Linked DNA regions of Homo sapiens. The protein of the gene in region 1 purifies or fractionates together with the protein of each later gene. This does not show direct contact. Each region holds a gene or a part of one and is shown in the gene's direction. Other genes may lie near its edges. The genes, in order: PRPS1, NMD3, NMT2, ELF2, SMIM26, PLS1 and ACSS2.

Region 1 (4,072 bases):
TTGACTGATAGTTGAGGCATTTGTAAAGGGAGATAAGCCACTGTGGTCTAAGAATGTTGTTTTCTGGTCTTACTTGATAATGATAAAGTTTTTTGTTTTTTTTTTTTTTGAGACAGAGTCTCGCTCTCTCGCTCTGTCTCCCAGGCTGGAGTGCAATGACTTGATCTCGGTTCACTGCAAGCTCTGCCTCCCAGGTTCACGCCATTCCCCTGCCTCAGCCTCCCGAGTAGCTGGGACTACAGGCGCCCGCCACCACACCTGGCTAATTTTTTTGTATTTTTTAGTAGAGACGGGGTTTCACCGTGTTAGCCAGGATGGTCTCGATCACCTGACCTCGTGATCCGCCCGCCTCGGCCTCCCAAAGTGCTGGGATTACAGGCGTGAGCCACCGTGCCCAGCGATAATGATAAAGTTTTAAAAACATAGCAGAATAGCTTGTCCCTTATACTGTCTGATATCAATTGTCAAACTACATTTGTTCATTTGTTCTCCAACTTTTAATCAAACATCCTGACTCTGGCAAGTGAATGTCTGGAGCACAGATGATACTCTGTGTTCTTGACTGAAACAAGAGCCATAGGCTTCTGATACATGATTGGAAATCAATATGCCTGCCTGACTTTCATTCTCCTCCAGGGAAATGCATATTTTGGTCAAGGAGCTGATATATGGAGGATGAATGTGAGCAGCATTAAAATTTTCTGATTTTTTTTTTTTTTGAGACAGTGTCTCACTCTGTCACCCAGGCTGGAGTGCAGTGGCATGATCATGGCTCCTAACTCCTGGGCTGAAGCAATCCTCCCACCTCAGTCTCCCCAGTAGCTGCAATCACAGGCACTTGCCACCATGCCTAATTTTTAAATTGTTTTGTAGAGAGGAGGTCTCTTTATGTTACCCAGGCTGGTCTCAAACTCTTGGGCTCAAGCGGTCCTCCTGCCTCTGCCTCCCAACCACAGACTTGTTTAACATAAAACCTAAAAGTGACTCTTTTAGCTTGAAATCTCTCGAAGGGCAGAGCTAGTAGTAAAGAAAGATCTGGGCCAGACATGGTGGCTCACACCTGTAATCCCAGCACTTTGGGAGGTCAAGGCGGGCAGATCACGAGGTCAAGAGATCGAGACCATCCTGGCCAACATGGTGAAACCCCATCTCTACTAAAAATACAAAAAATTAGCTGGGCGTGGTGGCGTGCGGCTGTAGTTCCAGCTACTCGGGAGGCTGAGGCAGGAGAATCACTTGAACCCGGGAGGTGGAGGTCGCAGTGAGCCAAGATCGTGCCACTGCACTCCAGCCTGGCGACAGAGCGAGACTGTCTCAAAAAAAAAAAAAAAAAAAAACTGAAAACGTCCCAAAAGTCCCTTGAAATGACCACTGCCTGTTTGTTTTGTTTTGTTTGGTTTGAGACGGAGTCCCGCTCTGTCACCCAGGCTGGAGTGCAGCGGCTTCATCTCCCCATACTGCAACCTCCGCCTCCCAGGTTCAAGCGATTCTCCTGCCTCAGCCCCCTGAGTAGCTGGGACTACAGATGCATGTCCCCACGCCTAATTTTTGTGTTTTTTGGTAGAGACGGGGTTTCGCCATGTTGCCAAGGTTGGTCTTGAAATGGGGAGCTCAGGCAGTCTGCCTGCCTTGGCCTCCCAAAGTGCTGGGATTACAGGCATGAGCCACTGCGTCCAGTCTTAAAAAAGGTTTATCCTAAACTAGTGCATTTTCTTTTTTGTTCTGGCTGCCAGGAATCTCAGCTTCCTTGATTTTAATTGGTTTCTAGTTTGATTTTTTTTCACTTGCTTTTATTTTTCTTGCTTTACAACATAAACTAACCCCATTTGTCTTTTCTTGCTTTTGAGATGAGGGTCTTCCTGTGTTGTCCAGGCTAGACTTGAACTCCTGGGCTCAAGCAGTCCTCCTGCTTCAGCCTCCTGAGTAGCTGGGATTACAGGTGTGTGCCACCACTCCCAGCTCCCTTTCATCTTGGGTTAGAAAGGAATAAATAAGTAATTATCTCCTATGTCAGCTTCTTCTGGCAATAGAATTGCCTCTGCCAGTTTTCATATAAGTCCCTTTTGGAGTTCTCCTTGAAGTTTTGTTTGGGGAGAGAAGGGTGGGTAAAAGTGATCTTGACAGAAATAGGACAGTAGGTAGTTCCTGAAGCCACACAGAAGATAGTGCTTAGAGTGAGATAGAAGTATGGATCTTTTATTTAATAACTCTATTGCCTTTTGATTTGAACTGAAGTTTTCTCTTGTTCAATAGGTATTGTCAGCCATTCTGATCTACTTGTCTATATACACACATACACCTCTCCTTCACCTAGAGGATTAGTTGGAATATAATGTTGTTTGAGGTATCACTAAGGTGATTTTTAAAAATTTTTAAATTATTTTCTTTTTTTTTTCTTAAACCTGGTGAACAGGAGAGGTGATTTTTTTTTCTTGGTAGAGACCCGAGTATGGGCACTGAAACTTTCGTGGTAAAATATAGCCCTACTTCATACTTAGAGTAAATTCCTATGGAGTTACTTAGTAATTGGACCAGAGTACAGTTAACACAGAATGAGGGCAAGGACCACATTTTATTCACCATTGTTTCCCTAGCATCTAGTACAGTGATGAGCATATGAACATTTAATATTTACTGGGTAAATTGCCAGTATGGTAGAGGTGGTACTGTCTTTTGTTAAAGTGTCATTATAGAACAGTAGTGATTCACTCCTTATGATATTTCTACTTCTTTTGCTATTTATGGACTCTGTAACAGTAATAGGTGATGCATCAAATTTTATGTACATCACATGTACCTATATGAAATGAGATACAGGCCACCTGCTAAAATTATGGTCCGGTTATTTGTAAGTACTTTAGACTAACATGTGCCAACCATTTCATGCATCTTTTTCGTGTCTGTCACATGGTAATATTAGAAAATATTACCATAGAAAATGGTAATATTTGTATAGTGCACTGGAGTAAACTGAGGCAGTGAACTGCTTCTGGTATAAGGCTCCTTCAGAGGATCTCCTGAAGCCTAGGTGATCAATATCCACATGTAGCTGTAACCATTCACAGCATACTAGTAGGGAAGCTGTTCTTAGACCTTATTGTCTATAGAAGTATAGTAAAGTCATCCCTCAGTATCCACAGGGGATTGGTCCCAAGACCAAATCTGCAGATATGAAATAGTGTAATATAAATATATATATATATATATATATTTTTTTGATATGGAGTCTTGCTCTGTCACCCAGGCTAGAGTGCAGAGGCACGATCTCTGCTCACTGTAATCTCTGCCTCCCGGTTCAAGCAATTTTTCTGCCTCAGCCTCCTGAGTAGCTGGGACTACAGGTACCTGCCACCACACTCAGCTAATTTTTTTTTTTTATTTTTATTTGAGACGGAGTCTCACTCTGTTGCCCAGGCTGGAGCGCAGTAGCGTGATCTTGGCTCACCGCAACCTGTGCCTCCCGGGTTCAAGTGATTCTCCTGCCTCAACCTCCCGAGTAGCTGGGACTACAGGCGTGTGCCACCATGCACGGCTGATTTTTATACTTTAGTAGAGATGGGTTTTCACTGTGTTGGCCAGGCTGGTCTTAAACTCCTGACCTCAGGTGATCCACCCATCTTGGCCTCCTAAAGTGCTGGGATTACAGGTGTGAGCCACCACACCCTGACTAATTTTTTTATTTTTAGTAGAAACGGGTTTCACCATGTTGACTAGGCTGGTCTTGAACTCCTGACCTCAGGTGATCCGCCCACCTCAGCCTCCCAAAGTGCTGGGATTATAGGCGTGAGCCATCACGCCCGGCCATATGAAATAATCTATGCACATGTTCCCTTATACTTTATTGTTATTTATTTATTTTTTGTAGAGATGGGGTCTCACTGTATTACCCAGGCTGGTTTTGAACTCCTGGGCTCAAATGATCCTCCTTCTACCCTGCCCCCTGCTCCCCAAAGTGCTGAGCCACCATGCCAGGCCCTCCCATATATTTTATTTTATTTTATTTTATTTTTGACACAGAGTCTCACTCTGTTGCCCAGGCTGGAGTGCAGTGGTGTGATCTTAGCTCACTGCA
Region 2 (4,072 bases), on another chromosome or scaffold:
TGATGGGAGTATGGATAATTCATCTGTGGTAACAGCAGGGAAGGTGTTGAGTGGGAGCTTCTGGGAATTCTCCTCTGGTTCCTTCTTTTGTACTGGAGAAAACAGAAGCGTGGGCAGTAGCTATGTGGGAAGAGCTGTTAGATAGATGTTTGAGGAGAGAGCGGAAGATATGAAATAGTCCTCTAGAACTAGAGGAAATGCACCAGGACAGTGTTGGATGGGTGCTGGGCAGTGCTGAGGGTTACTGTTACAAGTTTAGACTAGTCACTGTGGTGTGCATCTATTTCTGTAGTTCTGTCAGCCACATAGTCAAGGCATAGAGCAGGCAGAGCACTGGATTTAACCAAATTTATAATTTAGCCTAGTGGCTAAGGTGAAATAAGAGAGGGAACAAGGAAATTGAGTGTGTACATGAGAATAATTTTGATTATTGATTTTGAAGCTAGTGAGGAGGAATGAGGAATAAAGTTGGTAGGATGAATGGATTGTCCATTATATTAGCTTGAAAGATATTTGGTGCCCAGGAACTAGAGGAAATAAGCTGGAAAGATGGGAGGTGGTAGTCAGGGAGTAGGATGTTTGGAATTGATAGTTTGGAGGGTTTGCAGTTACTGGTAATAGAGGCATATGAGTGACTGAGATAGGAAGGTGGATAATATTTTGGGAGAAGAAGAACTCAAAGAATGGAGTGAGAGGTCAGGGTATTGTGGGGATCACCTGTGTGGATATTGAAATCGCTAGGTATTAATATTGTTGGAAAGTGTGATGGTGAGCCAGAAGCTAAAATCTTTTGAGAAATGAAAACAAGTGATACAAAGATGAATAGATTACTATAAAAAAGAGAGTTGCGGGTGGTAGAGTCTAATGACTTTAGACTTAGAGCTGGGTATATTTGAGGAGGAGACAAGGAGAATGGTCTGTAATTAGCAATGAAGAGCAAGGACGATAGCTGTCTGGTGCCTGGTCCAGTGATAGGAAGAATCAGTTATCACTTTATATAGCTGCAGGGGAGAGAGAAATCAGGAGATCTAGAAGGTGAAGGGAATGTTCAGCAAAGTTGAGGATTTAGGAGATTTCATTGTTAATGAATGTTGAGCTCCGGAGGGCACAGTAGAAGGGTTTTAGGATTCGGGGAGGAGTGTTAGATGGGGACAGAATAGGGAATATGCATAACCATATGGAAATTGGAGTATGGGAAATAGGGGTGACTGAGGTGTCTGGGACTATGGTAAAGAAAGAAAGGGACTAATAAAGTTGATTAGTCATGGTTGTCTGAGGACACATAGTGCAGTGGTTGTGTTGGGGAATGCCGAGCAGGATGTCAAGGAGACTCTCCATTCCTGCAGGTGGAGGTTGGAGCTTGAGGGGAAGATCAGTCTTATTCAGTGCCTTTGGGGCTTTTTTTTTTTTTTTTTTTTTAACCACTGCTGATGGAGATTGAAGGAATAGGAATCTGCCTATCACCCTGTGTACCTGGCATCACTTGTTAACTACTAGGCTTTGTTTTAGGGAGGCCAGCTATATGAGGAGGGTTTTACTCTGGTGTGTTGAATCTTTGCATCTACACTAAAAGTGGCCAGTCTACTTTTTACCAGACAGTGCTTGATAAAAGTATAATCTGCTGCTGATACCTCTCAAATCTGTTAACTGCAGCCCAAATTTTTTTATAGATCTCCAGACCAATTGTATCTTACTGTTCACTGAAAAGTCCTCTTGGGTATCTCACAGATACTGTCTTAAACTGAAATGTCTGAAATCAAATGTAACATCTTTTTCTCATTATATCCATTGTTTATTTCGGTATAGGTAGTCACAAAAAGTGTACTGCCTAGTTGTCTAAGCAAATACTTGAGCATCATTCTGGAGTCTGTTCTCTTCCTCTTTTCCATATCCAGTTACCATTAAATCTTACAGATTTTTTTTCTGCATCACTTGGACTGTGCAGATAAATCTTACAGATTTTTATCTCCTAACTAGCCCTTGCATCTGCTTTTGTTATTTCCAGTGCCTCTCAGTTCAGATCATCTACAATCTGGCCCAGGTTATTACAGCAGCCTCCATTCTTGTTCTCCCACCCACCCCTTCTCCCCAAACACCCATTCTGGCCATTCTTGAGTTATATTCAGATCTTCACATATAGCAAACTGTTTTGGCCTATGCAGATGCTGCAGATTTAGTAGTGAGTTATAGTTGTGGATTTAGTATTCAGTGCATGCAACTTCTCTAATCAATGTCACTTCTTAAAAAAAGTCACAGAATATAGAGAGAATAATCCAAGTGGAAACTTTTGTTCATGAGGTTACTAATAAATAATGAGGTCACAAGGTCTTTGCTTTCCTCCAAAAAATATAATTTCCTTTTAAAGGACAATGTACTTTTTTTTTTTTTTTAAGGGAAAAGAATTTTTTTCCTATGCAAATACTTTAATTTTTGCTTAAATTATATCAGTTGCATTAATATAGTCATTGGGTTGTCCTTTGATTTGCTGCTGTTGTTACGTAACCAATGATTAATCTTTTTTTGTGATGATGGTGTGTAGTATGCTGATCACAGATTCCTTAAGCATCTTATGAAATCTGCTTATTGATGATTTGTTCTTTCGTGTTTTTTTTCCTCCTAGGTGAGAACTTACGTTTCTTTTTGTTTGTGTTTTATTGAAGGTACGGCTTGTAGATGCAGGCTTTGTTTGGACTGAGCCTCATTCTAAGAGACTTAAAGTTAAACTGACTATTCAGAAAGAGGTAAGCAGTACATAATTTTCTCAGCATGGTTAAAGTGCAGGTAGTGAAAATGAAGACCCAGTGATAAGTTATTTTATGGCTTGAACAGCTTAAAAGAAAAAGAGTACACTCAATTTTAGCTGTTTGTTTTCTTTTGAGCATCTGTACAAATAATTAGATCACTAGTAAGAGTAGTCATTGCTTCTGATTAGCAGACTTACTTTTCCAGAGTTATTTTTATTAGGAAAGGATTGAAGTAAAAACATGGTCTAAGGTACTGATCCTCAAACTTGGCTGATCATTGTAATGACTCATCATAACTGAAGCAAAAATTCTCTGTATGTGAGGCCGGGAATCTATAAGTAGGTTGAGTATCCCTTATCTGAAATGCTTGGGACAAGAAGTGTTTCAGATTTTGGATTTTTTGGATTTTGGAATTTTGCATTATACTTAACTGGTTGAACATCCCTAATTCAAATACAAAATGTTCCAGTGAACATTTTCTTTGAGTGTCATTTAGAAACTCAAGAAGTTTCAGATTTTGAAGCTGAAATTTCAGATTCTGGGTTTTTGGATTTGGAATGTTCAATCTGTATTTAAAAAGCTTCCCATGTGATTTCTGATCAGTTATGTTTGGGAATCATTAAATTAAGGAATTTTTTTTTTGAGAAGTTTTCCTTATTTTTTTCTTCTAAGGATGATTTTTCTATGTAAACATGTATAGGCTGGGCATGGTGGCTCACACCTGTGATCCCAGCACTTTGGGAGGCCAAGGTAGGCAGATCACTTGAGCCCTGGAGTTCGAGACCCCATCTCTACTAAAAATACAAAAGTTAGCTGGACGTGGTGGTGTGTGCTACTTGGGAGGCTGAGGTGGAGAATCACTTGAGCCCAGGAGGCAGAAGTTGCAGTGAACCAAGATCGTGCCACTGTACTCCAGGCTGGGCAACAGGCAGAGTGAGACCCTGTCTCAAAAAAAATTATATATATATATATATATGTAAAATATACACAGAATATTCTCACAACCACTTCAGCTAAAGGAAAATTTGAAATGCTAATCTAATAAATCTTAGGAATTAAATCTGTATACCGTTCTTGAAATAGTATAACTTGTTTTTATGACTTTAAATTTGAGGACATTTGATTGATGTCCTCAAAGCATTAATGGAAAAAGTTTTAAATTAAATATTAAAGGTTCTTCTTTAAAGAAAATATTTGTTATTAAACAAAACCAAAAGAATGAAGGAGTGTAATTGTTTTATCAGGTGATGAATGGTGCTATCCTTCAACAAGTGTTTGTGGTGGATTATGTTGTTCAGTCCCAAATGTGTGGAGATTGCCATAGAGTA
Region 3 (4,072 bases), on another chromosome or scaffold:
GATGCGTAAGCTTCTGTCGGGAATTCCAAGGGGCCCGTCCCTTGAGGACCAGAGGGCCTCAAGCCTAAGGAAGGCACCAGGAAGGCCCTGAGCTGAGGCCTGCCCCGGTCATCATGGCCAGAGCACTGGGAGCAGGGGGCAGGGAGGGTGTGGAGAGGGGCCGAGGCAGGCAGCAGCCATGGGGAAGAGCCTGGGTTTTAGTCCTACCATGTTGGGAAGCTCTGCAGAGAAGGACTTGGAAAACTCTTCTTGGTGGAAATCACTAGAAATTGTGATGGCCTGAACTACGCTGCTAGCAGTTTAGATGGGGAGAAGTAACCAGCCTTGAAATTATTTTTAGGTTTTGCTGGGAGGGGCAGAGGTCACCGCAGCCCTTTCCTCTCCCAGTTTGTGGAAATGCAGTAAAAAGAACACACCTCCCAAGGCTGTTGAATGAAACCTACATTGCTTATGACAGTGTGTAAGATAAGGCTGCATTGTAGGCCTTGAGACTCGGAATCACTGTTGTTTTGTAATGTCATCTTTGTCACTGGATGACAAAGGATTTCTCCTTTCATTTAATTGGCAAAATAGGCCAGCTGTGGTGGCTCACACCTACAATCCCAGCACTTTGGGAGGCTGAGGTGGGAGGATCACTTGAACCCAGGAGTTTGAGATCAGCTTGGGCAACATAATGAGACTCCGTCTCTACAAAAAAAATTTACAATTAGCCGGGCACTGTGTTGTACAACTCTAGTCCCAGCTACCTGGGAGGCTGAGGAGAGAGGATCGCTTGAGCCCAGGAGTTGAAGGCTTCAGTGAGCCATGATTGCACCACTGCACTCCAGCCTTGGCGACAGAGTGAGACCCCGTCTCAAAAGAAAAAAGAAAAGAAAAATAATTGGTGAAACAGCAATGATTTCACACCACTGCCTAGCTTTCCTGTTTCAGTCCAGAGGCGCTTGATATAACAGCATCTTTTTAAAGATTATCTGAAACCCGAGGGCCCTAAGTCAGATTTTGCTTATGTCACTGACCACTTTGGATGGTTAGAATACTTTGTCATTTAATATTCTCGCTTTTTGCCTTTCTTTTTTCTCTTTCTCTCCCTGTTCAGATGAAGTCATAACATCTCATGGTGCAATTGAACCAGATAAAGACAACGTACGCCAAGAACCGTATTCTTTGCCACAGGGTTTTATGTGGGACACTTTAGACTTGAGTGATGCCGAAGTGGTGAGTGAGTAAAAACCTCTTAAATTCAACTCCTGCATTCACACATTGCTTCTAAGTTGATTCTGAGCACCATGGATAGGACACTTGTTTTATCTTATAGCTCAAGGAGTTATACACGTTGTTAAATGAGAATTACGTAGAAGATGATGACAATATGTTCCGATTTGACTATTCACCCGAGTTCCTGTTGTGGTAAGTCTCATCGATCACAGATGTCGTGGATAGGCGCTGCTGACTTGGGGACTCCTGCGTCTGTTCCTGTGTTCTTGGACAATAACTGGTGCCTGTTTTCTTGTCTACCGTGACCTCAGGGCTCTGCGTCCACCAGGCTGGCTCCTGCAGTGGCACTGTGGGGTCAGAGTGTCTTCAAATAAAAAACTGGTCGGGTTCATAAGTGCCATCCCAGCAAACATTCGGATTTATGACAGGTACATGTTTAAGCTCGTCCATGCGGTTTTTATATGTTTATTTTCTAAGAATTACAATTAGATTAGGCCTTTAAAAGTTACTGAATGCAGGCCAAGCGCAGTGGCTCACACCTCTAATCCCAGCACTTTGGGAGGCTGAGGCAGATAGATCACCTGAGCTCAGGAGTTTAAGACCAGCCTGGTCAACATGGGTGAAACCCCATCTCTACTAAAAATACAAAATTAGTTGGGCGTGGTGGTAGGCACCTGTAATCCCACCTACTCAGGAGGCTGAGGCAGGAGAATTGCTTGAACCCAGGAGGCGGAGGTTGCAGTGAGCCGAGATTGCGCCACTGCACTCCATCCTGGGCAACATGAGCGAAACTCCATCTCAAAAAAAATAAAAATAAAAATAAAAATGACTGAATGCAAGCTGTCCGGTGATCAGGGAGGTTGTGTATGTGTGGAGGCAGAGGCTTTATGGAAACTCTCTGATTGGTTTTGCTGTGAACCTAAAACTGTTTTAAAATATAAATTTATTAAGTAGTAAAGAAAAAAAAACGGACTGTGAATAAAAATAAAGGACAATGGTTTCTTTTTCTCTTTTTCTCTCTCTGCCTCTCAATCTCATACATGCTCACACATATATGTATCAGAAAAAACGAAGCCTTGGCCAGGCACAGTGGCTCACACCTGTAATTCCAGGACTTTGGTCGGGGCCGAGGCTGGCAGATCACTTGAGGTCAGGAGTTCGAGACCAGCCTGGCCAACATGGCGAAACCCCATCTCTACTAAAAATACAAAAATTAGCCAGCATAGTGGCACGTGCCTGTAATCCTAGCTATTTGGGAGGCTGAGGCACGAGAATCACTTGAACCCAGGAGGAAGAGATTGCAGTGAGCCAAGATTATACCACTGCACTCCAGCATGGGTGACAGAGCAAGACTTCATCTCAAAAAAAAAAAATTACTTAAAAATTTTTTAGGAGAGATAAAGCTTTCTCTCCATAGGATACATTGCACTTTTAGTTTGGATCTCCAGCCCGGAAAGTCAAAGATCCAGCTATGAAAGTCAAAGATGTCATATATAATTGGTCTCTTTACTTGTCAGTGTATTAGGTTAGCTTATTTACTGTGAAAAGCATTTGATCTCAAGGAATATTTTGTGCCAAATGAAGTGTGTACCTGGAAACAGAACCAGGAACAGGATTTGAAGATCTAGGAGGTTTACTGTAGTTCAGAGCGCACCAGCTCTGGTCTGCTCAAAGCCCCTCTCAGGGGTCCCAGGGGTTTGTATCACACTCCAAAGCAACATCTTATCAGATTCTGCACCAGGATGACTCAGTTATTACCATAATTTAGGAAAAACAGATCTAGAAACTTAAAGACGGGCAGGTCGTAGTGATTCATGCTTGTAATCCTAGCACTGGGAGGCTGAGATGGGAGGATTGCTTGAGGCCAGGAGGTCGAGACCAGCCTGGTCAACATAGCGAGACCTCATCTCAAAAAAGGAAAAAAAAAAAAAAGGAAAGAAACGTAAAGAGCCATAGCTGATCCATTTTCTAAACTGAAAACGTATAATGGACCAAAGTCCCAAAATGTATTTAGAACAAGAGGGTTGGAGCCTCCGTGCGTTTTACAATCATTTTGGCAGGGAGATATGGGGAATAGTGTTTCCGTCTGAATTTGTGAAATGTCTAAGTGATAGAATATTTTTGTTAAATATTGTGTTAAAGAATGGCTTTCAGGCCAGGTGCGGTGGGTGGTTCACGCCTATAATCCCAGCACTTTGGGAGATCGAGGCAGGTAGATCATGAGGTCAGGAATGCGAGACCAGCGTAGCCAACATGGTGAAACCCTGTCTTTACTAAAAATACAAAAATGAGCTGGGCATGGTGGCGTGCACCTGTAATTCCAGCTACTTAGGAGGCTGACGCAGGAGAATCGTTTGAACCCAGGAGTAAGAGGTTACAGTGAGCCAAGATTGCGCCATTGCACTCCAGCCTGGGTGACAGTGCGACAATCTGTCTCAAAAAAAAAAAAAAAAAAAAAGAAAGAAAGAAGAAAATAGAATGGCCTTTATGTTCTTTTTTTTCTTTTTCTTTCTTTTCTTTTTTTTTTTTTTTTTTTTTTTTGAGACAGGGCCTTGCTCTGTTGTCCAGGCTGGAGGGCAGTGATGCAATCATGGCTCACTGCACCCTCTGCCTCTCAGGCTCAAGTGATCCTTCCACCTCAGCCTCCCAAGTAGCTGGGACCACATGCATGCGGCAACATGACTGGCTGGTGTTTGTTTTTTGTAGAGATGAGAGTCTCAGTGTTGCCCAGGCTGGTCTGGAACTCCTGGTCTCAAGCAATCCACCTGCCTTGGCCTCCCAAAGTGCTGAGATTACAGGCGACAGCCAGTGTTCCCAGCCTGCATTCTTATTCTTGGATATTTCCTGGGTATCATCT
Region 4 (4,072 bases), on another chromosome or scaffold:
AAGATTGCGCCATTGCACTCCAGCCTGGGCAACGAGCGAAACTCCATTTCAAAAAAGAAAGTAGAGTGGTAGAGAAAGTTGGAAGAATGAATTTTTTAAATGAGGGTAATAATAAATGTATGAGTCTGCGGGGAGGCAGTAGAGATTGAAAACTGAAATAGAATTTGGTCGTTATTAACATTTTGAGGCTGGGTATGGTGGCCCATGCTTGTAATGCCAGCACTTTGGGAGGCTGAGGCAAGTGGATTGCTCGAGTCCAGGAGTTCAAGACCAGCCTGGGCAACATGGTGAAACCCTGTCTCTACCAAAAATACACAAATTAGCTGGGAGTGGTGGCACATGCCTGTAGTCCCAGCTACTCAGGAGGCTGAGGTGGGAGGATGGTTTGAGCCTGGGAGGCAGAGGTTGCGGTGAGCCATGATTGTGCCACTGCACTCCAACCTGGGCGACAGAGCTAGACCCTGTCTCAAAAAAAAAAAAAAAGCAAAAAAATATTTTTAGAGAATAGCTTCAGTGAGGTGGTGGAACATAGATTACAAGGAATATATAGATAAGTCAAGGAGTTAGACTATTTTTTTGAGAAATGTATACAAGTATACGTCTCGATCGATCAGTTAAAGTTCAGTTAAAGAACTTCTTTAATTGGACTTGTTGCCTTTTAACTTCAGTTAAAGATCAGTTAAAAGTTCAGTTAAAAGAAATGAGAGTTTAATATTTTTCTTTTTTTTTTTAATTTTTGAGACTTGTTCTCAGTTGCCAGGCTGGAGTGCAAAGGCATGATTATGGCTCACTGCAGCCTTCACCTACTGGGTTCAAGCAATCCTCTTGCCTCAGCCTCCCAAGTAGCTAGGACTATAGGCAAGAGCCACAACGCCCGGCTGATATTTATTTTTTATTTTTTCTAGAGATAGGGTCTCCCTATGTTGCCCAGGCTGGTCTTGAACTCCTGGGCTCAAGCAGTCCTCCTGCCTTGGCCTCCCAAAGTTTTGGGATTACAGGTGTGAGCCGCTGAACCTGGTCTGAATTTTTTTTTTTTTTTTTTTGAGACCGAGTCTCATTCTGTCAGCCAGGCTGGAATGCAGTGGTGTGATCCTGTCTCACTGCAACCTTTGCCTCCCGGGTTCAAGCAATTCTCATGCCTCAGCCTCCCAAGTAGCTGGGATTACAGGCGCATGCAACCATGCCTGGCTAATTTTCGTATTTTTAGTAGGGATGGGGTTTTACTGTATTGGCCAGGTTGGTCTCGAACACCTGACCTCAGGTGATCTGCCCACCTCAGCCTCCAAAAGTGCTGGGATTACAGGCATGAACCCTGAATTTTTTAATGCAAAATGATTTTAGCTTTTTTATGGTCAAAGAGAAGGAATCACTGAAATATTAAAACCCGGCTGGGCGCTGTTTCCAGAGGTGCTATTGTTTTGACTTATGTATTATAATTTCTTTACTTTTCTTTATAGTTTTGCCACCTATGAAAATAGTCCTAAACAATATTTTATTTTGAAAAAATAGTTTACCAAGCTAATTGAGTTAGGAAAGGGCAATATTATCATAGATAGATGAAGGCTTCCAGGAGAAGATAGCTGAATAGTCAGGTTCACTGAGTGTCATGAGCTTGTCTTCAAGTAGTCAGTGAGCAATGCCATGAGTTTTTAGAAATGTAAGGCACATCCTGCTCTGGTATCTGGCAGTGCTACAGTATGGTATGGGCTGGGTATTGCATATTTGTTCAGGAGGTATATGGTCACATGAAGAACGCTGTTCTGTATCTTTTATTTTAAGCCCATGGTAATCTTCCTCCAACACATAGTAGATCAAAGCAGAACACATCTGGGGGGTGAAATGTGTTCTTAGCTGATCCAGGCAGCAGGGCAGGTGGAGTGAGTAGGTACATGAAGGTAAGCCAAATGTCAATAAAAATCTAGAACAGACTGATCTGGACATTCTGTCCTTAGGAACAAGGTCAATGGTTATCGTAGTAATGACAGTTCATCATGCTATCTCAGGAGTCACACTGCTATATTTTGGACTGGTTGCCCTTTAAATCTGGTGCATAGCTAGCATCGTGGAATCTCTCTTCACAGTCTTCCTGAAGATTCCCATTGTTTCTCTCCTATGTTGATCTCTTCTATCCTGTATTTGCAATAGTTCTCTTTTTTAAAAAATTCACTCTCTCTTATTGATGGGATACATTCTCCAGTATCTTCTTGAGAAAGGAAACATGAAAGGTAAATGTTTGAGATCTTTCATGTCTGAGAAGATACCTTTATTCTACTTCTATAAGATGATTTGACTGGGTGAAGAATCCTAGATTGGAAGTAATTTTTCTTCATAATTTTGAAGAAATTGCTCAACTGTCATCTTCCTTCTAGTATGACTGTTGAGAAGACTGAAGTCTGTGTCCTGATTCTTTGTAGTAACCTGTGTTTTCTTTCTAGAAGCTTGTAGAATCTTTTCTGTTCCCAATATTATGATATTTCACAGTGATATGCCTCAATGTATGTGTTCCTTAATTTTTTGTACTAGACACTTGGTGGGTCCTTTCAAATGGGTGGCTTATATCCTTCAGTCTTAGAAAATTTTATTGATTTACTTCTTTCTTGTTGATTTCTTTCCAAACCTTTTTTTTTTTTCCTTTCTATTTCTTGTTTTTTCCTTATGATTTATTTTTTTGGAACTCTGTTATTCAGATAGTGGACCTCCTGGACTGGTTGGTCATCTAATATTGCCATCTTTTCTCTCCTGTTTTCTATTGCTTTATCTTTTTTCCTCTGGTTCCTGGAGATTGCCTCAATTTTATCTTCCAAGCCTGTATTCATTTCAGCTATTGTATCTTTAATTTCCAAAAATTCTTTTACTTGTATTTTAAAATGTTCTTTACTGAATTGTGATCTGTTCTTACTTTATAATATCTTCTCTGTGTGTGGAATATGAATATTTGGCTTTTTGTTCATGACTAAAAGTGATGGACTAAAAAGCTAGTTGGACACTCCATTTTGGGTAGAGTATGATGCTAACAACTGTGCCTATTATGCCTCAAAGATGCTATTGTTGTTCCTCTCTGGAAAGTAACCTGTCTTCTGCTGAGGTGGAGGAGGTCTGGTTGCTTAGCATCATGAAGGAGAGAGAAGGTCTAGGAATCAAAAGTGCATGTAATTGGTGTTGCTTTCTGTAGATTCTCTACACTGTACAGTGTGTTGTTTCTCAGATTTTTTTTTTTTTTTTTTTTTTGCTGCCAGACTGATTTGGCTTTGCTGGGTCTGCTAACCCACTCCATACTCATCCAGACACTTTCAGTCTTCCAGGATTTTGTTGTTCTTACCTCTTCTTGTTTGTTGCTCTCACCTCTTGTCCTTGTGGGTTTAGGTATAAAAGAGTCTTTTACTGTTGTTTTAGTCAGCTTTCATAATTAAGTGAAATTATATGCATGTTTTTAATCTGCCAACTTAATCCTAAAGCACAGATTATTTAAAATGTTTAATCTATGTCTTACCTCTTGAGACTTGAAAGGATTATTAAAGTTAGCCCTTTTCATCTCTTGTTTTGGCTTTTACATTCATATTTATAATATTTGAAACTCATTATGTGGACTGCTCGAGACTGTATTAGTTCAAGGATTTATAAGTGAATTCAGAATTTGTAAATACAAAGGTTGATTGTTCTTTAAATTTGCTCTTATAGGAAAGTGAAAAGGTTTCTGAATATCCAGCAGTGATTGTGGAGCCAGTTCCAAGTGCCAGATTAGAGCAGGGCTATGCAGCCCAGGTTCTGGTTTATGATGATGAGACTTATATGATGCAAGATGTGGCAGAAGAACAAGAAGTTGAGACCGAGAATGTGGAAACAGGTAGACATCTCATAAAATGTTCATTATTTATAACTTTCTCATTTTGTAAGCTTCAACAATACTATTGCCAGATGAAAAATATACTGAAAAACCTTTTTAATGCTATTTAGTATAGCTTGGAAACCAGTGAAACATCTATGTTTAAGGGAATTTGTGTAGATATAAAACTTCTATTGTATAATTCTATGAGGTGTAACAGTCTCATATCATGGACTCTATGCACAAAAT
Region 5 (4,512 bases), on another chromosome or scaffold:
CTTATTGTATTCTTTTAATGTCCATTTCTGTGATGACTAATGATGCTACTGTGCTTATTGGTCATTTGTATATCTTCTTTCGTTCTATTCAAATTTATTGCCTGGTTTTTAGTTGGGCTGTATTTTTATAACTGAGTTGTAAAGCGTCCTCATATATTCTGGATCCAAGTCCTTTTGTTAGATATATGTTATTATGAATATTTTATTCTGTGGCTTGGCTTTTCATTTTCTCAACTGTGACCTTCAAAGAGCAAAAATTTTAATTTTTTTTTAAAAGCCCTATTTATCCATTTTCGCTTTATGCATATATATATAAAATGAGATGGGGTCTCACTATGTTGGCCTTGCTGGTCTGGAACTCTTGGGTTCAAGCAATCCTCCCTGCTCTACCTCCCAAAGTGCTGGGGTTACAGGCATGAGCCACCCCGCTTGGGATGCCTTTTTTATTCTAAGAATTCTGTGCTTATTCCAAGATGGCAAACATATTCTCCTGGTTTTTTTCTAGGCTTATATTAAATAGTTTTAGCTTTTACATTTAAGTCAGCGATCCATTCAGAGTTAAGTTTTTTATCTATTTCTGTAGGGCAGAACATCAGTTTTTAAAGGGTGGGCAAGGTGAAAAGAACCCTGAAGGATACCAGGGAAAATGATGTTTCTGAAGCCATGAAAGGTGCAGGTGGGGTCAGTGGTGGCAAATGCTTTCGAAACCAAGTTTGAGTGTGGCTGAAAAGTACTTAACGTTAATTTACCGGGCCTACCTTGTGCCAAGCACATCACACTTGCTCTTAAGTTGTTCAGTCTATTGAGGGCATCTTGCTTTAAAAAATGTATGCATAAGACAAAAGCTGGAGGTGGTCGGAGTCGAAGGAGATTTTTTGTTTTTGAGACATGGGCACGTTTGTATGAAGGATAAACGTCAATAATGAAGATGGGGGAGGACTTAGGGTGTCAATGAGGGGAAAGGCCACTGAGGCTGGAAAAAATAGTACCCAGAGCCTAGTGGAGGGATTAGCTTTGGCCTGGAAGTATTTAAAGTTCACCCAGAGTTCCGGAAAGAAAAATGGAGGAAAAGAAGAGTTGCGGGGAGAGACAAGCGGTATCCCTGCAAATCTGAAAACTGGAAGAGGAATTGGAAGTAACCTTTTCGGATACCGTCTGGAGCCCACGAAGGCATTACAATTTTGCAAGTGAGAAGCTTCTCCTCTAAGTTGTCATTTAGTCCTCGTCACGTGGTAAAAAGTATCGCACGCCCACAGTTCTACACCCGAAAGTCCGGACACCTGAGCGACTTTCCGGGCCAGAGGCCCCAAGGTGCATCGGGGCAGAGCCGGAAGCGGACGCTGAAAACTGGCGGCTCCTTAATGGTTCCGGCGGCAGGGACCGCAGCGACGCCCTCACCGGAAGTCCCGCCTCTGCCGTGGGCCTGCGAGAATCGAGGCACTCGCTGGCGTACCCATGTATCGAAATGAGTTCACGGCCTGGTACCGGCGGATGTCGGTGGTCTACGGGATCGGCACCTGGTCTGTGTTGGGCTCACTGCTTTACTATAGCCGGACAATGGCGAAGTCGTCAGGTAGGGCTCTTCGGCGGGGCCTGCCCCGGAACACACGGCCTTCGATGAGAGTTCCCCGGGGGTCATGGAAACAACTTCCCTGTCCTTTAAATCCCAGGTTTATTCTGCAAAACTAATTGAAACGGGTGCTAACAGCCGTTTGTTATAATGGAATCTGCAAAGAACTAGACTCCAGGAATTATTAATACCTTGTAAATATTGTTTCCTAAATCTGAATCATTTACTGGATAGGGCCGTCCCCATATTCAGAATTGGAGGAATCTGTGTAAAGTGCAAGGTGGACTTTCAGAGACTCTGGCCGGTGATTTTTAAAGAGTGATGCTTCAGTACTACTGTCCCTCATCGTATATGGCGAGCAATTTCAGTACTTTTAGCAGCCAAGGCGTATTAAAATCTTCCAGTTACTAAGCGCAAAGGGAGAAAAGTCTCTCAGCTTTGAAAAATATGCTGGAAATCTGTAGAGACATTAAGTTGATTAGTGTGGTTGCTAGGGGCTGAGGGGTTGGGGAGTTGGGGAATGACTGCCAAAGGTATGGATTCCTTTTGTGGATGAAAGTATTTTTAAATTGATTGTGGTGCTGGTTGCACAAATCTGAATATACTAAAAACATTAAATTGTATATTTTAAGTGGGTTAATCGTATATGTTAATTATATCTCAGTAAAGTTGTTGTGTAAAAACTATGCTGAAGATTACATTTGGTGATGAAGCTGTCAGTGGCCTGAAAGTACATGTGTCCAGCATTAAGCATTTAAAAACATTTTGGCCGGGTGCAGTGGCTCACGCCTGTAATCCCATAACTTTGGGAGGCCGAGGTGGGAGATTGCTTGAGCCCAGGGGTTCGGGACCAGCCTGGGCAACATGGGGAGACCCCCATCTCTACCAAAAGAAAAAGAAATTTTTATATATAATATTTTATATTTACTTTATATGTAATATATGGTAAAAATACTTTACATTTATATATAAAGTAAAAATATTTTAATGTCCATATTTATGTTTTCTTTCTTTCGTTCTTTTTTTTTTTCTTTTTGACAAGGTCTCACCCTGTCGCCCAGGCTTGAGTGCAGTGGCATGATCTCGGCTCACCACAACCTGCGTCTCCGGGCTCAAGTGATTCTCCTGCCTCAGCCTCCCGAGTAGCTGGGATTGCAGGCGCAGGCCACTGCTGCCCGGCGAATTGTTTTATTTTTTTTTTGAGACAGAGTCTAGCTCTGTCGCCCAGGCTGGAGTGCACTGGCGCTATCTTGGCTCACTGTAACCTCCATCTCCCAACTCAAGCAGTCCTCCTGCCTCATCCTCCCCAGTAGCTGGGGTTATAGGCCCATGCCACCACGCCCAGCTAATTTTTGTATTTTTAGTAGAGATGGGGTTTCACTACGTTGGCGAGGCTGGTCTCAAACACCTGACCTCAGGTGGTCCACCTGCCTCGGCCCCCACAAAGTGAGATTGGGATTACAGGCGTGAGCCACCGCACCCAGCTTTTCTTTTCCCTTCCTTTTCATTCCTTCCTTCATTATTGGGGTTGGAGAGAGTGGATGTAATTCTTACCTTAGTTAATTTCTAAGACTTTAATGACTGCTTTCTAAGTTAATAATTCAGGTGTTCTTTTTTTTTTTTTCTCTTAATGGTGATAAAGTAGACCAAAAGGATGGCTCAGCAAGTGAAGTACCCAGTGAACTCTCTGAACGCCCAAAAGGATTTTATGTGGAAACAGTTGTCACATATAAAGAAGATTTTGTTCCAAATACAGAAAAGATCCTCAACTATTGGAAATCATGGACTGGTGGCCCTGGTACAGAACCATGACTGGCTGCTGAATTCTGAAAACCAGGACTTGGTTCAACATTTAAATTTGATAGTTGCCCTGATTCCCATTTTGGGTTTGTGAAAAGTGTATGTATTTAAATTTGCTGTAAAACATAATCACTAATAATATGCAATAAATATTTTCTTGAAGGAAACTATCTGCGTTTTCTTTTTTTTTTTTTTTTTTGAGACGGAGTCTTGCTGTGTCACCCAGGCTGGAGTGCAGTGGCTCGATCTCGGCTCACTGCAAGCTCCGCCTCCCAGGTTCATGCCATTCTCCTGCCTCAGCCTCCCGAGTAGCTGGGACTAAAGGCGCCTGCCACCATGTCTGGCTAATTTTTTGTGTTTTCAGTGGAGACAGGGTTTCACCGTGTTAGCCAGGATGGTCTCCATCTCCTGACCTTGTGATCCGCCTGCCTCAGCCTCCCAAAGTGCTGGGATTACAGGTGTGAGCCACGGTCCCCGGCCTACTATCTGCATTTTCAAGAGGTGTTCCTCTGTATTTGCATGAGTGAAAGATTGCTGTGAAATTTCACATAGAGCTTCCATAAGCTTGATTTCCTGAAACTAGTTAATGTAGATTTATATTTCTTTCATGTTGCTATTAGGCACAGCTTTAGTGGTCGCTTTAAGGTTAGTTTCAGCAAATCTCCATATTCACTTTGGGATTCACAGTAGCCCTTTGGGTACTACTGCGTACTGGGTAAGTATGATATAAATTTGATTGTAACTTCTGAATTAAACAGACTGGACCTATTCTTTAGGACCAGTGCACATACCCCTCATTCCTTCAGCAAGTGTGGATTACCCACCAACTGTGGCCAGTGCTATTCTAATGCTGGGAATGCAGTCAGGACGACATGATTGATGCTGAACCAGTTTCCTCAGTGGTCTCTTGGTTGCAGGCAACAAACACAAGTGAGCTTAAATCAAAAGTGGGTGTTTATAAAAAACGTGTATTGGTAGCTCAGAATTAAAGCAGAGAGTATGGGCCAGGAGCGGTGGCTCACGCCTGTACTCCCTGCACTTTGGGAGGCCGAGGGGCGGATCACAAGGTCAAGAGATCGAGACCGTCTTGGCCAGCATGGTGAAACCCTGTCTCTATTAAAAATACAAAAATTAGCTGGGCA
Region 6 (3,344 bases), on another chromosome or scaffold:
GTATTTACTGGTTGTGTAAACAAGTCATTTGAGCTATCTTAACTTTATATTCTTCATCTTTTTTTAAAAAAGAATTCCTTTACTATCAAGATGCTAGGGTTTAAAAGGTGGATTAAATAAACTAAAACATGTAAAACAACAAGACAATGTCTTTGTAAGTGTTAGTTCCCTTTCACTATTTCATTTTTCTTTCTGAAAAATATTAAGGGAAGGCTTTTGGATTCATGGTCTAAGAAATATGTGAGTAGAATTTATAAAATTGTTAATTAAAAATTCATCTATTCCCTTTCAAAAGTTTTGTATTTTTTACAGAATGGACACTATAGTTAGCATACTTAGGAGCTATCATGTCCACAAACCTTATTCAGATATGGTGACAACTCTATATTATATATAAAGATTCAAGGAAAAGTATATTTTAAAGGGTTTATTTATGTGTGCTGGTTGCAGAAAAGCTGAACGTTAGGTTAAGTACAAAGAATTTGTAGATTGCCTTCAGTTATATGATCAGAAGAGTCTGAAAATAATGAAAATTAAAGGTCAGATGTTTATGAATGTTCATCTATGCTTTATTTTCTAGGATAAATCTATAAGCACAAGTTTACCTGTCCTAGATTTAATAGATGCCATTGCACCAAATGCAGTTCGTCAAGAAATGATCAGGAGAGAAAACTTATCTGATGAGGACAAGCTGAACAATGCTAAGTAAGCCTTTATGGTTTATATTACAATACATGGCCCTTTAATTCTCTAAAATCCTTATAGGAAAAGTTACTATGCCCTTAAAATTCATATTTTTAAATATAACTTATATGTGAGTCTTAGATTTAAGACTCACAAACTTAACCTTTTCGTAAAACTAATCTTGTCAAAATATTTCACTCTTTTGTTAAAATATGTTAAGTGAAAACACAGTGGATAACACCAAGATATTTTTCTTGTCTCTTCAAGATACGCCATTTCAGTTGCTCGAAAGATCGGTGCCCGGATATATGCATTACCTGATGACCTCGTAGAAGTGAAACCAAAGATGGTTATGACGGTGTTTGCATGCTTAATGGGAAAAGGACTGAACAGAATAAAATAATCATTTCATATGATTTTCTGCCACATTAAACATATTGTATGCCTCACAGTTTACAGGATTCTGAAATGTAGTGGGTGTAAAACCAGAGATTATTTGTATGCTCAAAATAGTTATATATTCATTAATGAATTCAATATCCTGTTCATACTAGTTAGAGCTGGTCAGCCTTTTTGGGTAACACAGTTAATTTACCAACTGATACAGATAATAGAATATATTCATAATCAAGCTGATACTTCATGATTAAATTATTTTTGTTGCTTAAAAGTCGTATTAGACAAGACTAAATCATTCTTTTTTATGGTTCAAAAAAGATGAATACAAACGTTTTTGCAGGTTCTGCTGTGAAATGTGGTTTGATTTTTTTGGTGTGTTAATTTTGATCATAAATGCATTCATACTCATAATCCAGTTTAATCCTTTTATTTGCTTCCTCCAACTATTTAAAGTGGTCCAAAAACACTTTTCTGTAAGTTTCTATACTGTCTAAAACCTTATGGTGACCAGAATTGTTTATTAATATCAAACTTTTTTATATATGAGAACTAATTCTTGAATAAACCCCAAAGTTCACTCTCTTGTTTAAGTAGCAGCAGCTTTTTACTTAAAATTTAATTTTAACTACATTGATACTTTACACATCCTAGTTTGGTAACACAGCTTTAACTATGTCATGCAACATATATATGTTGGTAGGATGTTATTAGAGAGATATGTGTGCATATATATTTTTTTGCACCTGAATCACCCAGCTTTTCATAAGTGGTATGTTTAATTGGTCATTCAGCCAACCATCAGTATTTTCCCCCCACAACATGTGTAACACTTTTCAGTCTGTGGATATCTGATACATTAAGATTTCTTTTTATAAGTATTCATTTTGAATGTGCATATAGTTATTTGACCCCTTCCAAATACTTGTAGCCAAACATTGGCTAGAACATCCCAAGATATGCTGACACTGTCCTGTTAGCTTCATATTATACTTGCTAGTTTAGGTCTCTATAGAAGCCCTATATAATTTAGAATATGCCCACTGAATATCTTTAATAGAAAGTAACATAAAGCTAGTATTCAATGTAGAGTATTTTCATATGTTTTTCACAGCCCGTTACAAATTGGCAATGTTTGGTTAATGTTTGTATTACTTGGAAATCGCTACAGCTTGGACTATTTTTTTCTAAATTTTTAGCATTAGTCCATTTCTGCTGCTAACAATTGAATCCAGAAATCTACTTTCTCCATCTTCCACTGTTAGTGCCAGTGAGCAATACTGTTGTGCAACAAAAATGTCACTTTATCTCAGTGTGAATGAGTAGTCTAAATTCCCTTTCTACCATTGATTTAAATATATATATTGGTAAGAGAGACTGCCCATGTGTTTAGAATAGAATTTTTTAAATGAAATGATCAACAGGTGGAATTTGAAATATATTCTTCTACAAAAGAGATTTCTTTCCCTTTTATATTTTGATGATTGTTTTCTTAAGATTAAGATATGTTCTTGCTCTTTTATAAGATTATTTAAATTATGTTTCCCTCTGATTTTTTTTCACCATTGTATTTACTAAGTTATTGGATTTACATGAAATCTGGCACTTTAGGGTGTTCTTTTTCTCACAGAGTATATTTAATAAAAATGCTGTGTATATAGAAATGTGTTTATATTTATTTCATTTGAAGAAAAATATTCAGCCTTGAAAATTAGTCTAGCATAAGCTTATTTTCCAGAAAAGAAAAGAATTCCTAAATGAGTTAGTAAAACAAAAAAAAAATTGTGTCTGATTTCTTTGAAGATGAGGGTAGTTCTTTTGTTCTTAAATATGAAGAATTATTAAAAACCAACTGTGTGATTACTACAATTTAGTTTGTGCTGAAATAATTCAGGTGAATCAATCCATTCACAAATTTATCATTTATTATGATCCAGATACTATGCTAGACACTGGGGATTCATCTGAAAAAAATACAGATGAAGTCTCCTGACCTCATGTATCACATCCATGTATGATATCCTAGTAGAGAGACAATTCGTAAATAGGAATTTTAGACAGTGATAATGCAGTAGAAGAAATAACATAAGGTAATGTGATAGAGACTGACTTGGGAAATGGAGTGGAGATTATTTGTATTTGGGTGGTCAGGGAAGGTCTCTCTAAGGATATTTGTGCTATAAGTGTTCAGCAGAGAGAACAAATGTAAAGAACCTGAAGCAGGCAGTCCTGTAGGCATCCTAGAAGACAAACAGGTGAACATG
Region 7 (4,072 bases), on another chromosome or scaffold:
CCAGCCTATCAATAGAGTGAGACCCTGTCTCTAAAAAACAAATCACAAAACCCAAACTGTGGTTTGCCAGTAGGCAGGGTGATTGGGAGATAGGAGTGGGGAGAACACTTCTCATTATGTATCTTTTTATGTAGTCCCACTTGTATGTATTACTTATTCAAAAAAATCATAAAATTGGAAAAAAACCACTAAGGGAAACATTTATTTATTTATTTTTTGAGACAGGGACTCACTCTGTTGTCCAGGCTGGAGTTCAGTGACATGATTACAGCTCACTGCAGGCTTGACCTCCAGGGTACAAGCGATCTTCCTGCCTCAACCTCCTGAGTAGCTGAGACTACAGGTGTGCACCACCATGCTCAGCTAATTGAAAACGATTTTTTTTTTTTTAGCAATGAGGTTTTGCTGTGTTGCTCAGATTGGTCTTGAACTCCTGGTCTCAGGTGATCCTCCTGCCTTGGCCTCCCAAAGTGTTGGGATTACAGGCATGAGCCAAGAGATCTTCCCATCTCATCTTTCTGAGTGGCTGGGACTATAGGTGCATGACACCACACTCAGCTAAAATTTTTTTTTTTTTTTTTTGAGACAGAGTTTCATTCTTGTTGCCCAGGCTGGAGTACAGTGGCACAATCTTGGCCCACTGCAACTTCCGCCTCCCAGATTCAAGTGATTCTCCTGCCTCAGCCTCCCGAGTAGCTGGCATTACAAGCATGCACTACCACACCCAGCTGATTTTTGTATTTTTAGTAGAGACGGGGTTTCTCCATGTTGGTCAGGCTGGTCTTGAGCTCCTGACCTCACGTGATCCACCTGCCTCGGCCTCCCAAAGTGCTGGGATTACAGGTATGAGCCACCGTGCCCAGCCGGATCCAGCTCAATGTTTTTAGAGATGCGGTCTTGCTATGTTGCCAGGCTGGTCTTGAACTCTTGGCCTCAATAGATGGGCCCACTTTGGCCTCCTAAAGTGTTAGAATTACAGGTGTGAGCCACCGTGCCTGACCCAAGATAGTATATTTTTTAAAAGTATTTCTCCCTAGTCACTCATTTTTATATCATTCTGCTCTATTTATAATGCTTATCATAATCTGAAATTATCCTGGTTATATTTGTTATTTGTTTATTACCCACACTATCATTGGAATATAAGCTCCATGATATCAGGTATCTTACTTATGTTGTTCATTGGTGCCTTATTTCTTCTTTTTTTTGTTTGTTTGAGACGGAGTCTTACTCTGTCGCCCAGGCTGGAGTGCAGTGGCGTGATCTTGGCTCACCACAACCTCCACCTCCCTTCAAGCTATTCTCCTGCCTCAGCCTCCCAAGTAGCTGGGATTACAGGCGTGTGCCACCACACCCAGCTAATTTTTGTATTTTTAGTAGAGGCATGGTTTCACCACATTGGCCAGGCTGGTCTCAAACTCCTGACTTCAGGTCATCTACCTGCCTCAGTCTCCTAGTGTGTTGGGATTACAGGAAAGAGCCACCACGCCCCGCCCATTGGTGCCTTATTTCTATACATGTAGATAGCACATAGTAGTTGTTGAATAAGCAAATGAATGCATGAAGGAATGACTGAAGTAAACCAGGCTAAAGCCTAGGAAGGAGTGGGAGGCAAGGCTGAGGAGGTAGACAGAAATCACCTGATAAAGGATGGCGATTCTCAAACTTTATTTATTTATTCAAGATGGAAACTCACTCTGTCATCCAGACTGGAGTGCAGTAGTGTGATCTCAGCTCACTGCAACCTCTGCCTCCTGGGTTCAAGGGATTCTCGTGCCTCAGCCTCCCCAGTAGCTGGGATTACAGGCACACACCACCACACCCAGCTAATTTTTGTATTTTTAGTAGAGACGCGGTTTCACCATGTTGGCCAGGCTGGTCTCAAACTCCTGACCTTTGATCTGTCCACCTTGGCCTTCCAAAGTGCTGGGATTACAGGCGTGAGCCACCGCGCCTGGCCAATTCTCAAGAATCCCCTACTAATTCCTTGTACCATCTTGTAATAAAGAAGCAGATCCTTGGACCCTGTGATTCTAATTCAGTATGTTTGAGCTGGGGCCCAGGAATCTACAAATCCTCTAGATGATTTAGGCACAAGTGATCTGGAGACCCTACTCTGAATAATGCAGTCTTGATGCCTCATCAGAAGGAATCACATCTGTGATTTCACTTCTCCTTAATACATTACTAGGATGGAAGAGAAGGGGCCGTCACTCCATTTCATCAAGGATCAGAGATGGACAGTGCATTTTCTAATGACATACAACATGTGTATAAAATATCTTGAATGGCCAAAGTATCTGACCCGTCAGCTCAAGATTGGTGATGGCAAGATTGATGGTGGGCAGATAGCTCATCCTCATAGAACAGTTCCAGGCCTTAGTGTCACTGAATGGATTTTATGACTCTGCCTGTTTCTTGTTTGGGGAAGAAGTTATACCCCTAATCACTGGTTCTTTCTGGTATGTCTCAGGGAGGGCAATGAGCCAGGGGAGACCACTCAGATCACATACCATCAGCTTCTGGTCCAAGTGTGTCAGTTCAGCAATGTTCTCCGAAAACAGGGTGAGTGTGGGGGTGTGGGAAAGGACTGGGGGTCTGGCCTTGGGGTATCTGAGTATCTGAGACTTATGGGGAGAGGGCAAGGGATGGAAAGAATTTGGTAACAGAGGAAGAGAACAGGTCAGCTGGGAGGGAGGCCAGCTGGATGGGAGGGAGCAAGTAGCAGCAAGAAGGGTTCATGGTTCATATTCTGTGCTTTTACCTGCAGGCATTCAGAAGGGGGACCGAGTGGCCATCTACATGCCTATGATCCCAGAGCTTGTGGTGGCCATGCTGGCATGTGCCCGCATTGGGGCTTTGCACTCCATTGTGGTAGGAGTTTGGGCTGGTGAAAAGGGGCAGGCGGGGGGGTGGGGCTCTGGAGAAGTAGGTTGGGCCTAGATGATGGAGGGTCTTAAATAACAAACTAAGGAGCTTAGAAGGTTTGTGTCATAGGTCCATATTAGTTATTCAGTTTCTTCTAGGACCCTGGCTTAGAGATCCTGAAAGTTCCATGAGCAACCCCTTTCTTCATTCACTCAATCCCTGGGGCTTTCTTCTCTCCCTCAGACTTTCTTCCCTTCCCTAGTTTGCAGGCTTCTCTTCAGAGTCTCTATGTGAACGGATCTTGGATTCCAGCTGCAGTCTTCTCATCACTACAGGTGACTAATTCTCTCACCTCTTCTCCAGAACCCCCCATACCTCAAGCCTTGGTCTCCAATCAGCTCATTGGTATTTGGGGCTACTCAGCATAGAGGGTAGAGACTGCCTGCCTTTTCTCTCCTGGTCCCACCTCAGCTGACCCTCTGTCAGCTCGAATCAGCTGGAAGAGCCAGAGTTAAGAGGCCTACTCAGGAAGGGCCCTATGGACATTGTGCCCACTAGGCAGCATGGGGCTTACTAAGGCCTGGAATGTCTGTTGCTCCCCAAAGATGCCTTCTACAGGGGGGAAAAGCTTGTGAACCTGAAGGAGCTGGCTGACGAGGCCCTGCAGAAGTGTCAGGAGAAGTAAGTGTGTTTGGCTACTGTCTGAGTTGACTGAGCCTTTCCCCAGTGCCAGGTTCCCTTTGTCCCCTCTACCCTAAATGGACATGGGTGGGTCTTGCCAAGTTCCCTTTGAGCCAACAAGGCTACCACTTTAGGCTTTTCTCTTCTCCAGGGGTTTCCCAGTAAGATGCTGCATTGTGGTCAAGCACCTGGGGCGGGCAGAGCTCGGCATGGGTGACTCCACCAGCCAGTCCCCCCCAATTAAGAGGTCATGCCCAGATGTGCAGGTGAGTCTGGCACTGCTATGCCTTTCTCCAGGCTCAAATTCCTTCACTTTTCCTGCCTAGAAAATTCTTGATGTCCTTCTTTGCCTGCTCATCAGTATACTGAGGATCCAGGAGCAATTCTAGGAATGCCTCCTCTAGCAGGGCTAGGTGGGAACTGGAAGACTTTGACCTTGACTGTGGGTAGAGAGGCCCTTGTACCTTGAGAACATAGCACAAGCGATTGTAAGGGAGACTCCTATGCTGGTTGGGGTATCCTT

Evidence for each region.
Region 2: the proteins of PRPS1 (region 1) and NMD3 fractionate together in Homo sapiens (co-fractionation; one large-scale study listed by BioGRID). This does not show direct contact.
Region 3: the proteins of PRPS1 (region 1) and NMT2 purify together in Homo sapiens (affinity purification with mass spectrometry; 4 studies listed by BioGRID and IntAct, with this or other methods). This does not show direct contact.
Region 4: the proteins of PRPS1 (region 1) and ELF2 purify together in Homo sapiens (affinity purification with mass spectrometry; 3 studies listed by BioGRID and IntAct, with this or other methods). This does not show direct contact.
Region 5: the proteins of PRPS1 (region 1) and SMIM26 purify together in Homo sapiens (co-immunoprecipitation; one large-scale study listed by IntAct). This does not show direct contact.
Region 6: the proteins of PRPS1 (region 1) and PLS1 purify together in Homo sapiens (affinity purification with mass spectrometry; 3 studies listed by BioGRID and IntAct, with this or other methods). This does not show direct contact.
Region 7: the proteins of PRPS1 (region 1) and ACSS2 fractionate together in Homo sapiens (co-fractionation; one large-scale study listed by BioGRID). This does not show direct contact.

The regions. Positions count from the first base shown.
Region 1 is NC_000023.11:107,634,741-107,638,812, forward strand, and holds part of PRPS1 (ribose-phosphate pyrophosphokinase 1), read left to right. Parts: intron 1-4,072. UniProt on the Homo sapiens protein: Catalyzes the synthesis of phosphoribosylpyrophosphate (PRPP) that is essential for nucleotide synthesis.
Region 2 is NC_000003.12:161,230,739-161,234,810, forward strand, and holds part of NMD3 (60S ribosomal export protein NMD3), read left to right. Parts: intron 1-2,660; coding exon 2,661-2,741; intron 2,742-3,988; coding exon 3,989-4,072. UniProt on the Homo sapiens protein: Acts as an adapter for the XPO1/CRM1-mediated export of the 60S ribosomal subunit.
Region 3 is NC_000010.11:15,130,388-15,134,459, reverse strand, and holds part of NMT2 (glycylpeptide N-tetradecanoyltransferase 2), read left to right. Parts: intron 1-1,096; coding exon 1,097-1,215; intron 1,216-1,315; coding exon 1,316-1,407; intron 1,408-1,526; coding exon 1,527-1,643; intron 1,644-4,072.
Region 4 is NC_000004.12:139,124,936-139,129,007, reverse strand, and holds part of ELF2 (ETS-related transcription factor Elf-2), read left to right. Parts: intron 1-3,678; coding exon 3,679-3,844; intron 3,845-4,072. UniProt on the Homo sapiens protein: Isoform 1 transcriptionally activates the LYN and BLK promoters and acts synergistically with RUNX1 to transactivate the BLK promoter. Isoform 2 may function in repression of RUNX1-mediated transactivation.
Region 5 is NC_000020.11:18,566,024-18,570,535, forward strand, and holds SMIM26 (small integral membrane protein 26), read left to right. Parts: upstream 1-1,408; 5' UTR 1,409-1,455; coding exon 1,456-1,573; intron 1,574-3,212; coding exon 3,213-3,382; 3' UTR 3,383-3,537; downstream 3,538-4,512. UniProt on the Homo sapiens protein: May play a role in cell viability.
Region 6 is NC_000003.12:142,710,921-142,714,264, forward strand, and holds the end of PLS1 (plastin-1), read left to right. Parts: intron 1-580; coding exon 581-705; intron 706-951; coding exon 952-1,087; 3' UTR 1,088-2,744; downstream 2,745-3,344. UniProt on the Homo sapiens protein: Actin-bundling protein. In the inner ear, it is required for stereocilia formation. Mediates liquid packing of actin filaments that is necessary for stereocilia to grow to their proper dimensions.
Region 7 is NC_000020.11:34,910,623-34,914,694, forward strand, and holds part of ACSS2 (acetyl-coenzyme A synthetase, cytoplasmic), read left to right. Parts: intron 1-2,473; coding exon 2,474-2,565; intron 2,566-2,770; coding exon 2,771-2,874; intron 2,875-3,130; coding exon 3,131-3,203; intron 3,204-3,473; coding exon 3,474-3,549; intron 3,550-3,700; coding exon 3,701-3,815; intron 3,816-4,072. UniProt on the Homo sapiens protein: Catalyzes the synthesis of acetyl-CoA from short-chain fatty acids. Acetate is the preferred substrate. Can also utilize propionate with a much lower affinity.